3 separate regions of the Homo sapiens genome follow, and all the other regions are linked to region 2. The links come from fine-mapping of genetic effects on gene expression. A gene starts in region 2. Each other region holds a variant in brackets. All regions are shown on one strand. Distances are from middle to middle.

What was found. PIP is the estimated chance that this variant, and not a neighbour inherited with it, causes the effect.
Region 1: its variant is the best candidate, but not a certain one, in a credible set for the expression of JPH1 in nasal epithelium (TOPMed, PIP 0.60).
Region 3: its variant is the best candidate, but not a certain one, in a credible set for the expression of JPH1 in aorta (GTEx, PIP 0.86).

The regions. Positions count from the first base shown.
Region 1 is chr8:74,290,901-74,295,143 of GRCh38, forward strand. All of the region lies in intron 2 of JPH1 (junctophilin 1), which reads right to left. Among named protein-coding and RNA genes, the nearest start is that of JPH1, 29 kb to the right of the region's middle. The variant C/T (reference allele first, on the strand shown) is at 2,160.
Region 2 is chr8:74,319,038-74,323,280 of GRCh38, forward strand. JPH1 (junctophilin 1) reads right to left here and starts at 2,503. Exons shown (of 6, transcript NM_020647.4): 1 at 1,872-2,503. The coding sequence starts at 2,250. RefSeq lists an enhancer at 1,570-2,460 and a silencer at 2,554-2,653.
Region 3 is chr8:74,281,873-74,286,115 of GRCh38, forward strand. The region is part of intron 2 of JPH1 (junctophilin 1); the gene reads right to left. Among named protein-coding and RNA genes, the nearest start is that of JPH1, 38 kb to the right of the region's middle. RefSeq lists an enhancer at 1-347. The variant T/C (reference allele first, on the strand shown) is at 2,358.

The DNA.
Region 1 (4,243 bases), 28 kb before region 2:
ATGATGCTGGAAAAACTGGCTAGGCATATGCAGAAAGCTGAAACTGGATCCCGTCCTTACACCTTATACAAAAATTAATTCAAGATGGATTAAAGACTTACATGTTAGACCTAAAACCATAAAAACCCTAGAAGAAAACCTAGGCAATACCATTCAGGACATAGGCATGGGCAAGGACTTCATGACTAAAACACCAAAAGCAATGGCAACAAAAGCCAAAATTGACAAATGGGATCTAATTAAGCTAAAGAACTTCTGCACAGCAAAAGAAACTACCATCAGAGTGACTAGGCAACCTACAGAATGGGAGAAAATTTTTACAATCTACCCATTTGACAAAGGGCTAATATCCAGAATCTACAAAGAACTTAAACAAATTTACAAGAAAAAATCAAACAACCTTATCAAAAAGTGGGGATATGAACAGACACTTCTCAAAAGAAGACATTTATGCAGCCAACAGACACATGAAAAAATGCTCATCATCACTGGCCATCAGAGAAATGCAAATGAAAACCACAATGAGATACCATCTCACACCAGTTAGAATGGCGATCATTAAAAAGTCAGGAAACAACAGGTGCTGGAGAGGATGTGGAGACATAGGAACACTTTTACACTGTTGGTGGGACTGTAAACTAGTTCAACCATTGTGGAAGTCGGTGTGGCGATTCCTCAAGGATCTAGAACTAGAAATACCATTTGACCCAGCCATCCCATTACTGGGTATATACCCAAAGGATTATAAATCATGCTGTTATAAAGACACATGCACAAGTATGTTTACTGTGGTACTATTGACAATAGCAAAGACTTGGAACCAACGCAAATGTCACTGTGGCACTATTTACAATAGCAAAGACTTGGAACCAACCCAAATGTCCATCAATGATAGACTGGATTAAGAAAATGTGGCACATATACACCATGGAATACTATGCAGCCATAAGAAAGGATGAGTTCATGTCCTTTGTAGGGACATGGATGAAGCTGGAAACCATCATTCTCAGCAAACTATCGCAAGGACAGAAAACCAAACACCACATGTTCTCATTCATAGGTGGGAATTGAACAATGAGAACACTTGTACACAGAGTGGGGAACATCACACCCCAGGGCCTGTCGTGGGGTGGGGGAGGGGGCAGGGATAGCATTAGGAGATATACTTAATGTAAATGACGAGTTAATGGGTGCAGCACACCAACATGGCACATGTATACATATGTAACAAACCTGCACGTTGTGCACATGTACCCTAGAACTTAAAAGTATAATAATAATAAAAAATTAAACAGAAAAAAACGTTCTGAAAAACACAACTGATTCCCACATGGCACTTACTCTCCACCTTGTATCACAGTGATGTGGAATGTTCCACTACTAACTAATATGCCACTTGAGCGCTGGCATTATTCCATGCTCACTTGGAACCCCCTGAATACCCAGCAGTGTCTACTCAAGGAAGCGACATCAAACGGCCAATAAGCAAGGGGCTTGGTCTAGGTCTTCCATGAACTGCCACTAATACACACTGCGGAGGGGTCTGTGGTCACTGACTTCTAGCTCCCTGTGTTTCCTGTGTTTTACCTAATTCTTCTGATGCCATTTTGCAGATTACAAGTTACCCAGCTGCATATGGGGGAAAAGAATGGCTTCAGTTATTTCCTTAAAGCCTAAACAGACACACTTACAAACGGGTAAAATGAAGATATTTTAATAATCTTAACACAGACGTTTCACACTGCTGTTAAAAAACAAACAAACAGAAAAGTAGTGTAAGGAGAATTTCCTACCTAACTTTAATGTTATTTTCTCATACTTTAAATTCTGGCTATTTCTTCTGAACAGGTTGATCAAAGCCATATGAGGTAGCAACACAGAAATGTAGATGTGTAGGTGGGCAATTGTGTTGAAAAGGGAAATCCAATCAAGTCCTGTTTAGCAAGGCAAAAAGCAAGACAAAGACACAGGTGTTCAGCTCAAAGCTGTTTAAACTTCATAGCAGATGGCAGGCAGGGGTGAATCAGGCTGGTCTGAGTTTTAAAAAGGAAGCCTCCATCAAAGAAATCTGTCTTTATAGCCACAGTTTGCACACACCCTAGAGCAGCCTTTGGGAACGTCAAACAGAGGTGTGGTCATACAAACCACAGGCTGGGATT[C/T]TTCCTCATATTTGTATGCAAAGTATTAGGAGAAAATAATTTACTCTTTTCCAGAATTTGGGTAGGAACCTGTACAGCTATCTTTCTCAGAGACCTGAGAGCCAATGAACTTCTACTACTAATCTAGTAACTGAAAAAATATATATTATGACCTGTATTTCACAAAAGCCTTGGATAATGCCTCAAAGACACTATTATATCCTTGGATAGGCCCAGTGTGGCAGCAGGAAAACAAATTCACCAAAAATCTCTTGATGTGACCCCATAAGAGTAAGAGCTCCACCTGCACAGAGTTTACTAGCGTTGGGCACCGTTCCAAACACTTAACACACACCAATTCATTAAGCACTCATTCTAACCCTGTGAGGAGGTGCCACTAACTATCATGCCCATTTTACAGATGGGGAAACTAAGGCTTGGAGAGGTGAAACCGGTTGCTCAAGGCCACTTAAAGTGACAGAACCAAGATCTCAAGTTGCACAGCTGAACGAACCACTACCCCATCATGCAGAAATATTTCAAAATAATTCCCTAAATTTCTCTGAGTAAAAACCAGGCTGTCATGTTAAAGATTTTATAGGCATGCTTTGCCTTTTCTGCCTTCTGTAATACTTGGTGATGCAGCTCACATTCACTTCTTTGATTTCTGGCAACCATAACTGAATTAGAGTTGACTTACCACTTCTCCTTCCAGGACCAGACTGACCATAAAGAGGGGAGGGCACTTTATCAGAGCTGAAACTATGAGACTATGCCAGGCTTGGACCACTGCCTGTGAGATATTTCTGGCAAAAATAGGATAGTCTGGACCCAACTTTTGGAAGACAAAGACACCGGGGGCCAATTGACACCAACCTCCCACTCAAGAGCCAGCAGCCCCTAGGTTGGGCATGGGGTGTCTCTTTTGTAGAGCGCAGACCAGGGTCCCCCTTCACTGCAGGAAAGGGCTGCCTTCATCTCAGCCCCGACTTCCAAAACACAATGCAGGCGTCACTCTGGTCTGTCCTTGGGGGCTGGTGGTGGGGGAAAATCCTGCACACCTGAGGGAACTCCTCTGAATGTGGGAGGCAGGAGCATGAATGGCCACAAGGGCAATTATGTGAATGTGCTCTACAGCTAGGGCCTGGGGACTTCTCTGTAGCCTGATTTCTTCTCATTGAAGATAAAGTTCCCCACGTGCCACCTGCCCTCAGCTCCTGCTCTTTCTGCACTTCTCTCAAGCAGCTGAGTAATAAAACTGATAAATCAAACCTACCTTATTCACCTCTCGAGCTTCATTTCTAAGTGAAGCATTTGAACACTGTCCAGGTAGACCAGAGACAAGCCAAGACAAAGTCGGCCACGGTGAGGAAACAGGGCCAAAAGCAGGCCCGGATGTCCCTGTCCTGATTCACGTACTACCAAGACAAAGCAAGTCAAAATGAGCACTAGGCACAAATTCTACAACAATCTCTCTTCTCACAAGAATTCTTCCTCTTCCTCAGAACAAATTTCTTTTTTGGTGATGCTCCCACACATTGTCTGAACCTCCACGTAGCTATTATTTAACTTCAAGCTGCATTGCTAGTTGTTTACATATTCATCTGTCTCTTGGTTATAAATTTCCTGAAGGATAGAGTCCGTATCTTTTTCATTTTGGTTTCTCCCAAGGCACCAAAATGTGTACTTGCTTTACACAGAGCAGGCATTTGGAAAATGCTGGTTCAAATGATCACAACATTTACTCTAACATGAAATATTTAGTGTCCACTTTCTACTTTAAATTTATTGACTCTTTAAATTTTCACAATGGTCCTCTGAGTAGCTATTGCTGTTCTTTTCCCATTTTGCTGATGAGGGAGCCTGAGACGTGGAACAGTTAGGCCATCTGCCCAACTCACAGCATTGGCAGGGCCAGGGTCTAAACGACTGTCTGGTGGCACAGAGTGTGTGCTTTACCACTAACCACACATGCTGCTTCTCTGTGCCCTGGACCTACATAAGTTTGAATGACAATAGCACTTTAGCAGGGAAGAAACAAATGAGAGCTCCTAATCCTCCATGCTTTTGCCCTTGCAGGTCCCTCTGCTTGGAAAGCTTTTCTC
Region 2 (4,243 bases):
TGATGCCAAGTTTTAAGTTTTTTTTTAAGTTTATTTTAAAACTGAAGGCAGATTATTCATAAAATCATTCTGGAGACTTATTTGGGTTTCTACGACATGTACACAGACAGCCTCTACTGTGCTATATATATTTTGATTACTAGGTATAATGAATACTCTAAACCAAGAGAGTGTGTTTAATGAATAGTATCTTTAAAAGGAGACGATTTTTAACCTTCCAAAACTGAAGAGAACCATCCCTGGCCTTCTTAAAAGATTATAAAATAATGCACACATTTAAAACAATAAATTTTGCCTTCTACTTTTGAGCATGGAATTTAGTTATATAGTAGAGCTGGGGCCTCCAACAAAATCCAGTCACAAACTGACATATTTACAGCGCTGTCAACCAGGTACTTTATGCCCATTCAGAACATTTAAGGGTCCCAATTAACTACTGTGAAACTCGGGACTCAGCCCCACATAAAACTATTAGAGAACGTTTTTTTCTTTTAATCCATGAGAACCATATGCTTAATTTATACTGTAGGATGAAAAGATGTCCTTTTTAGCAAGTTCTACCATTCTGCCATTTTGCATTTGAAACACGGCCCAAGTGTTCTGACTAAGTGAAGTGTACAAATTGTGTAAGCTTTTATATAAGCAATGGTATAAATGGGGTTGCAGTGGGCTGGAGAAACTTTTAATTGCATCCCTTTAATATCCTCCAACTCTGAGCTGCTTAATTCCAAAAAGTGATGTCGCCTCCTACAACCCTTTTCAACTAAATATGATTATGTTTATCAGGAAATGCACTTTGCTAAAGCATAAGCTATTCATGAATATCTTTCTCAGCGTATTACACAAGGAAATTCATCAGGTTTTGACACCTGTTTCAATAATGTATACTTTTCCTAATAAAAGAGGAACTTCTGTCCTGGTATATACACAATCTCTTTGGCAAATATTGTTAAATATTAAAATAAGGTGATCTTTGTTCACAGCCAGGAATACTGGCTTAGGTCACACATAATGCAAATTATTGTTTCAGTATTGCCATTCTCAGGAGTAGTAGCTGCTAACTTAGCAGCTATAGGAACACACCTGCTAATTGTATTCTTTAAAATGTAGACTTCATTACCCATTTCTAAAATATCTTCCTAGTAATTTGTCCAAGATCTCCAGGTCAGCAAAGACTGCTACTCTTTTAAGACCAATACTTTAAGAAACGGAATGAAAACTAGGAACTCACACACTCTGAACTCCACCTGCATCAGGTGGCCTTTCTGCTCCCATAACTAGGACGTTTCCAAATGCACCCCCAAATAAGGTACAATTCCCCAACATCCTAGTTACGGGGTTCTGGCTTCTATCTTTAGGCTACTGGAGGACCAGAAGCGAAATACGACTCCACGTGAAACCAATCCCGGGAGCGGTCAGCACGGACCGCCAACCTCACCCGCTCAGGGTGTTCGCTCTAACTCCACGGGAGTGGCGATTTCAAACCCGGCCGGGAGAGGGAGGGATCAGGAACGTAATGTGACGGGCTCAAGTGACAGCGTCCTCTCTCCAGCCCAACCCTCCCGGGCGGCGCTCCCTCCCGGTGGCAGCGCAGCGCTGGCGCCGGCCAGGTACATTCACGCCTAGCTCCCCTGAGTGTGGATACACGGCCCGCTCCAAGAACGGGGTCAGATCCAGCCCTCGCGCCCCAGTCCGGTCCCAGCGCCCTCTCTGGGAAAGGCGGGCGCGGGCGCGGGGGTGGGAGGCGCCCCCAGGTGTTTTGGCGGGTTTCCGGACACGTGCGCCCGGCGTCCTCCCCGCTTCCCCGCAGCCGGGGCAGAGCCCACCGCACCAGCTCGCGGAGCAGCCGAGCCGCCCGTTACGCCGCTCACCTCCGTCCCCGTAGGTCTCCACGCCGTACCCGTCTTGCAGCCCGTTACTCCAGGTACCCTCGTAGCGAGCGGGGGTGCACAGGCTCTGCCGGACCCCGTAGCGCCCCTTGAAACCATGTGACCACTCCCCCCGGTACATCCACTTGCCCTTCGTCTCCACCCCCAGCCCGTGCCGCTTGCCCTGCGCCCAGTAGCCCTGGTAGGTGTTGCCGCTGGGCCAGGTGTAGCCTCCGACCACCTCGAAGCCGTGCGACCAGGAGCCCGAGTACTCGCCCTGGCCCTTGGGCCCCGTGCAGATGCCATGCCCGTGCGCCTTGCCCTCCTCCCAGCCGCCGCAGTAGGTGCCGCCATCGTCGAAGTCGAACCTTCCGCCCGTCATTCGGGGGGCAGCCCCGGCGCGCTCCCCGCAGGGGCACGGACGCGGGCAGTGCTGGGCACGGCAGGGTGTAGCTCGGGGGTGGGGGCCCGGCGGGCGAGCTCACGACAGCGCCCTGGGCAGCTCGCGCTGCCGCTCGGCTCCAGTCCGACGCCGCCCCCGTCCTCCCTCCTCTTTTGCCGCCGCCACCGCCGCCTTCCTCCTCCTCCTCCTCCTCCTTCGCCGCCGCCGCCTGGGCCAGCGCCGCGCGCGAGAGGACAGCCCAGGTTCCCGAGCGGACCTTCAGCTGCTCCCGCCCGCCCACGTGAGCCGGGCACCGCCCCGCGCCCGCCCCTCGTCCCCTCCCCGGGCGCCGAGGCCCGGCCCCGCGGCGCTCCCGCCCCACCGGGCCCTGCCCCCAGCCCCGGGAGCCGCCGCTTCCTCGGCAGGCGGGCGCGCGCGGGGACCGGCTGGCGCGCATGTGTTCGCGCAGTGGGATGCCGGTGGGAGGGCGAGTGTACCCGGGGACGCACGAGAATCCCTGCCTGGAGATGAAGGCGCGGCTGCCTGTGTGGGGGCCGCTCGCGGGCGCCGGAGCCCCCGGTGTTTGTGTTTGGGGTTTTTCAAAGTGGTTAAGCTCCTGTGAGTGCGGCCACGTGTGTGTTGAGGGAAAACTCATTGTATGCGTGTTTGTCTGCATGGGGTTTGTAGTTGCATTGTTTTCGCATTCCAACTTGTGTACTGTTGCATTTGTCATGCTCAGCTGTCATCGTGAATTAATATCGCCTAGATATATGTATGCATGTGATGTAAATCTGCGGCAGCCTAGATATAATTGTGCAGAGTGTTCTTTTACACCTACCCGTTTCAAAGCACACGTGTTTGCATTTATTTAATGAAGACACTGAGGGTGAGCAGTACAGTTTGAAAAAGCACAGAATATATTGGTTAGTTTTTTATTAATAGTGATGAAGAGGATGTTTTCAATCGGCCTTTGCAGTGGTACAGGATATTCCTTTTACATTAGAGCCTGCCCCCTCTCGTGCCTCGTTTGTGCTTCTTAACAGCCTTAGAGATTCTTGAGCCTGGAGCTGTGTGCCCAACAGGTAGACGGCTCGGTCTGTGTACATTGTATAAGTGTCTGGAATGCACACCTCTCCACTGGTATCCACTGTTTAAGAAAGTAAATAGAGGTTTGCAAGGAGGAATATGGTAAGTAAAGCACTGCTCTAAACTTGCAAAGAAACTGTGACCTACAAAACCAGGGACAGATGTCAGCTGGTCTACTTTCTAGCTACAACACTGCTTTGTCGAATTCACTTTAGGCAACTCTTCTAAACTTTTAAACCTCCATTTCACCATCTTCTGAATGGGACTAACAAGATTTGCCTTTCTCTTTCTATATTCGGTAATAACTGAGTATATTGTGGCTGCAGTGCCAAACCAAAAATTAGAGATTTGGTAATAGGCAAGTTGGATCAGCATTGCCTCTGGTGAGAGAAAGCATTATTCTCCACCTCACCCTCAAAATACCCACGGGAGAAACTTCTCCCACTTTCACAGCCTAGGGTCTTAGTTTGGCCTCTCAAGGAAACTGATTTGGAGTGTATTCCTGCTATTTCTTAGGCTGAGAGGCCTTTGGGTGACTATGCGAGCATCAGAAGCTGCCAAAGGTTCTCTCACTAAGTATTTGATAATCAGATATAGATATAAGGACAGGTGTCAGGAAGACAGCCTGGGAAAAAGTAGACTAAACTGCACAGAAAAGGAACTGAAATTGACCTTGATTGCCTCTCTCTCAGGACGAGAGCCGACCTTTCCTACTTATCTGGCTGAAAGACTGAAAGAAAAATCTCAGTTTATGCAGAACCAAATCACCAAAGAGAATTAGAAGCCCTCATCCATGGCACTGCCCGCAGAGTTGCCAGGAATAGTGCTTACCCTAGTGGCCTGAAATAATTATGCATCTCTCGAAGCATCTTGTCCTGGACTGGGGATTGATTTAGGCCGCTGGGAA
Region 3 (4,243 bases), 37 kb before region 2:
GGCAGCCACCTTTGACATTATAACAGACTGGAAGATGGGGAAAGGCTACGCAGAAATGACCAAACTGGCTCTCGGAAACACGCTTAAGAAGCTGTCTAATCCAACCTGAGTTTAGGAGACTTTCCAAATGTTCCATAGTTCCCTGTGTTGGAAGGATCACTATGCATCAGGCATTACATAAGATCCAGCTCATACATGAACCTACCTAATCCTTTTGATTTCCCTATCAGTATCCTAAAGTTATTGATGAAGACACCAAGGATCAGGGAAGTTAATTTACTTGCCCAAGTTGGAGTCAAGACTTTGCCTGACCCCAAAGCATGTGTTCTTCCCACACTCCACTACCTTAAATCACTGAGATATTCACTGAGTGTGAAAAAGATTAGTCCCCCTTGCATGCCTACTAGTCTAGACCTTCCACCAAGTTTTCCCTATCAAAGACCCAAAGCTGTTATTCAAAAGATGTGTGAATATTTTATTCTAAAATATTACACTTGGAGCGATCTGCCCAACCACAGAATGTATTCCATACCCTATTGGAAAGCTTTAAGTTTTTTTCTGTGCCATTAGGATAGAGATGTCACGAATATGCATGCTGAGGTGGGTACCAACAGTCTTTTCAACTGCAGGAAAACATTTTAAATTAAGAGTTTTAGAATGTATATATTTGAAAATAAGCCAAGCACAGAAAGGTAAATACCACATGGTTTCATTCTTTTGCGGAAGCTGAAAAAGTTAATCTCATAGAAGTAGAGAGTAAAATAGTGGTTAACAGAGGTGAGGAAAGTTAGGAGGGAGATGAGGATAGCCAGAGGAGGTTAACTGAGGCAAAATTACAGCTAGGTAGGAGAAATACATTCTAGTGTTCTATAGCACTACAGGGTGACTATAGTTAACAATTCATTATGCATTTTCGAATAGCTACAAGAGGGGACCGGGAACGTTTCCAACATAAAGAAATGATAAACGTTTGAAGTGATGGATTTCCTAATTGCCCTGATTTGATCATTACACATTGTATACATGTATCAAAATATCACACTGTTCTCTATAAATATGTACAATTATATGTGTCATTTAAACATAATAAATGAATTTAAATGGGTATAATATTTTACTAGAGGTATTTTAATGAAGGGCATCTTGACTTTTAAAACACAGTTAAACAGTGTTTATTGTAGCAATGCTTGTGACAGTAGGGTGTTAGGGGTTATTAGGGGAGCAGCGAGTAAAACGTGTATGTAGACTTTACCATGCAGCAGTCAGAATGCACCAGGGGTACATATGGCTGCATGGATAAATCTTAAAACTGTGCTGAGTGGCAGAAAGTACATATAAATACAACTTAAAATGCATGTAAAATATAAAATGTTATTAATATCTTAAATATATATTTTTAAATTATAAATAAAAGAAAATGGCCTGTGTGGCATAGTGTCATTTATATAAATTAAAAATATAGAAAACAACACTACATTTTTCAATGTCTACATAATCAATGACATATAATAAACATATTACTGAGTGCTTATAGAGGGGAATGGGAAAAAGGGAGCACAAGAGAGGGGCTTGCACTGATGGTTGCATACAGAAAGCCAGAAACTGAGGGCTGTGATGACATCAACCTTCTACACTGAAAGGTTAAGAAAAGGGAAAGGAAGGTGAGAAGGAGGAAAGATGGGCAGAAATACAGGTAGGCAGAGGATGAATACAAGTTATGAATCTAACTCAGAGCTTTGGCTCCACACACTCATTTTAATCTTTTAGTTCTATTTTTATCTTATAGTGGCATAATATACAATCATCAGTTTCAGAAACTTCTTTTAACAGCGTGCTGAGTGCACACACAGCTCCCCCTCCCCAAGCCCTGATTAGAAGCCCAGATTGCAGCTTGAATACTAACATACACTGAAAGTGGTACTTGTTGGCATTAGAATTGAACTCTTGGATTTAGTCCCATAAAAAATGCTCCTTTTTCTTTTTATAAATATATAGACTGGCAGAATATAAACACCACAGAGCAAAGAGATGGAGGAAATGAAAAGAACAGTGGCAAGTAGCGCTTGGATGGGATTTAAAGTCTGAGACTTTCTCCTTTTCCTTACATTCCTCCCCTCCACCCAGGAGATTCAAGGGGTGGCAGTGATTGCAAATTTCCTTCCCTTGGACCCAGGAGTCCTCCTGTCTCTTAACCTCAGGCCAGCTGGGGAGGGCTGTGGTGGTTGGGGAAAAAGCCCTCAGGAGCCAGGGCTGGTGAATGAACTCCTAAACAAACTCTCTATTGACACATCACTAAAAATAAGTATGCTTACATGCATAACACATTTTTGGAACAGTAAACTGAACTCTCTCCTTTA[T/C]CCTCTCTTGAGACTTATGTGTCATTCTTATTCAAATTTTTATAAAATAAAATGCAGGTGCAACATCTTCCAGCACTGTAGGTAGTAACTTTTGATGTGATGAATGCACATCTGCTGAGAAGTTAAGGAATTGTGGAGAGAGTGGCTGGGTGGTGTATGTCAGCTAGCTAGCCTGTATTCCGGTCAAACGCTGATAAGGCTCACTTGGGCATTGCCTTATTTAGTCAGACTTCTCTGCTGAAACACCGGTGCACGGTGACAACTGTGCATGCTATTACAAGGCTTTCTCCTTTCAGTCATCTGCTGACACACCAATTAAAAAAAGCGTCTCCATTATTGAAACAGCCTTTCCGACTAGCAACTTTCCTACAAAGAATAAAGATAATGATATTATAAATAAATCTGAATATGTTTACCTGGCAAAAGAATTCTCATAAGGAATAATACAAATTGAGTTCTAGTTCTTAAGGCTTTTTTCCCCCAACACTAAACAAATTATAATATTGTATATTACTACTCTACTAGCTTGGCTAAGCTGCATTTTTTTTTTTTTTCATAGACCGGTATGTGCTGGTATGGTTACTATTTCTTCTTTCTTTCTTTTTTTTTTTTTCAGACAAAGTCTCACTCTGTCACCCAGGCTGGAATGCAGTGGCGCAATCTCGGCTCACTGCAACCTCTGCCTCACGGGTTCAAGTGATTCTCCTGCCTCAGCCTCCTGAGTAGCTGGGATTACAGGCAGGTGCCACCACACCTGGCTGATTTTTGTATTTTTAGTAGAGATGGGGTTTCACCATGCTGGTCAGGCTGGTCTCGAACTCCTGACCTTGTAATCCACCCACCTCAGCCTCCCAAAGTGTTGGGATTACAGGCGTGAGCCACTGCGCCTAGCCTATGGTTACTATTTCTAACTGGAGATTTTTTTTTAAACCAACAGGCATTATGGTGTTGTAAAGAGCCTTACACTCAAAGTTAGTGACTTGATCTAGACCTGATTCTGCTATTAACTGCACATACACACATACACACACATATACATGAATTTTTCCATATAAATACTATATCTACTTTATGAATTTTTCCATATAAATACTACATATAAATACTATATGTATTTAAAATATTTTCTAGAAGTCTAGCATGTGAGCCGGTACTACTTCTAGAATGAGGAAGCTCTTTATGTAATGATATGGAATGAAATCCAATATATAGTATATTATTAAATTAAAAAAAAGCCTAGGATGCAGTGTTTTCTGAGCTAGAATCCTTTATCTGCAACTCCAAGATCTTGAAAGCTTTAAAAATCAATATTTCCTTTTTATAAATTTAGTGTCAAAACTTGACAGTAACACCTGAATGCAACTGACATGAGGCTATTTATGATTCTTCTTTATCCCACCTAGTGTGATTATTCAGTTTCCCTGGAGAATTAATGTGTCTGATTACTTGGTGTGCTCAGACCCCCTGGGGATATTATGTAATCTGCATTATATGCAACATGTTGCTTTTCTAAAATCCAGTTCTGAATTCTAAAACATATCTGGACCCAAAAAGTTTTGGATAGCAATTATGGACTTGGAGCATGTAACCATCTGCATCAAAGAGGATAAAACATATTTCTATATATGTAAATAACAGAAAAAGTTTTATGAAGATACTTCACTGCCTTCAGGGAAAGGATTTGGTCAGCTGGAGTGAGGAGGAGATTTATCACTCAGTCTATACCATTTTGTACTTTAAAATTTTGAACCATGAACATGTATCATTTATGCAAAAAATACGGAAAGTTAAATGTTTTAAAAATCATCACTTGTAAATACAGGGCAAGAACCTGGTCTATTTAAAATACATCCTGTTAACTAGCCTTTCATATGCAATGCTTCACA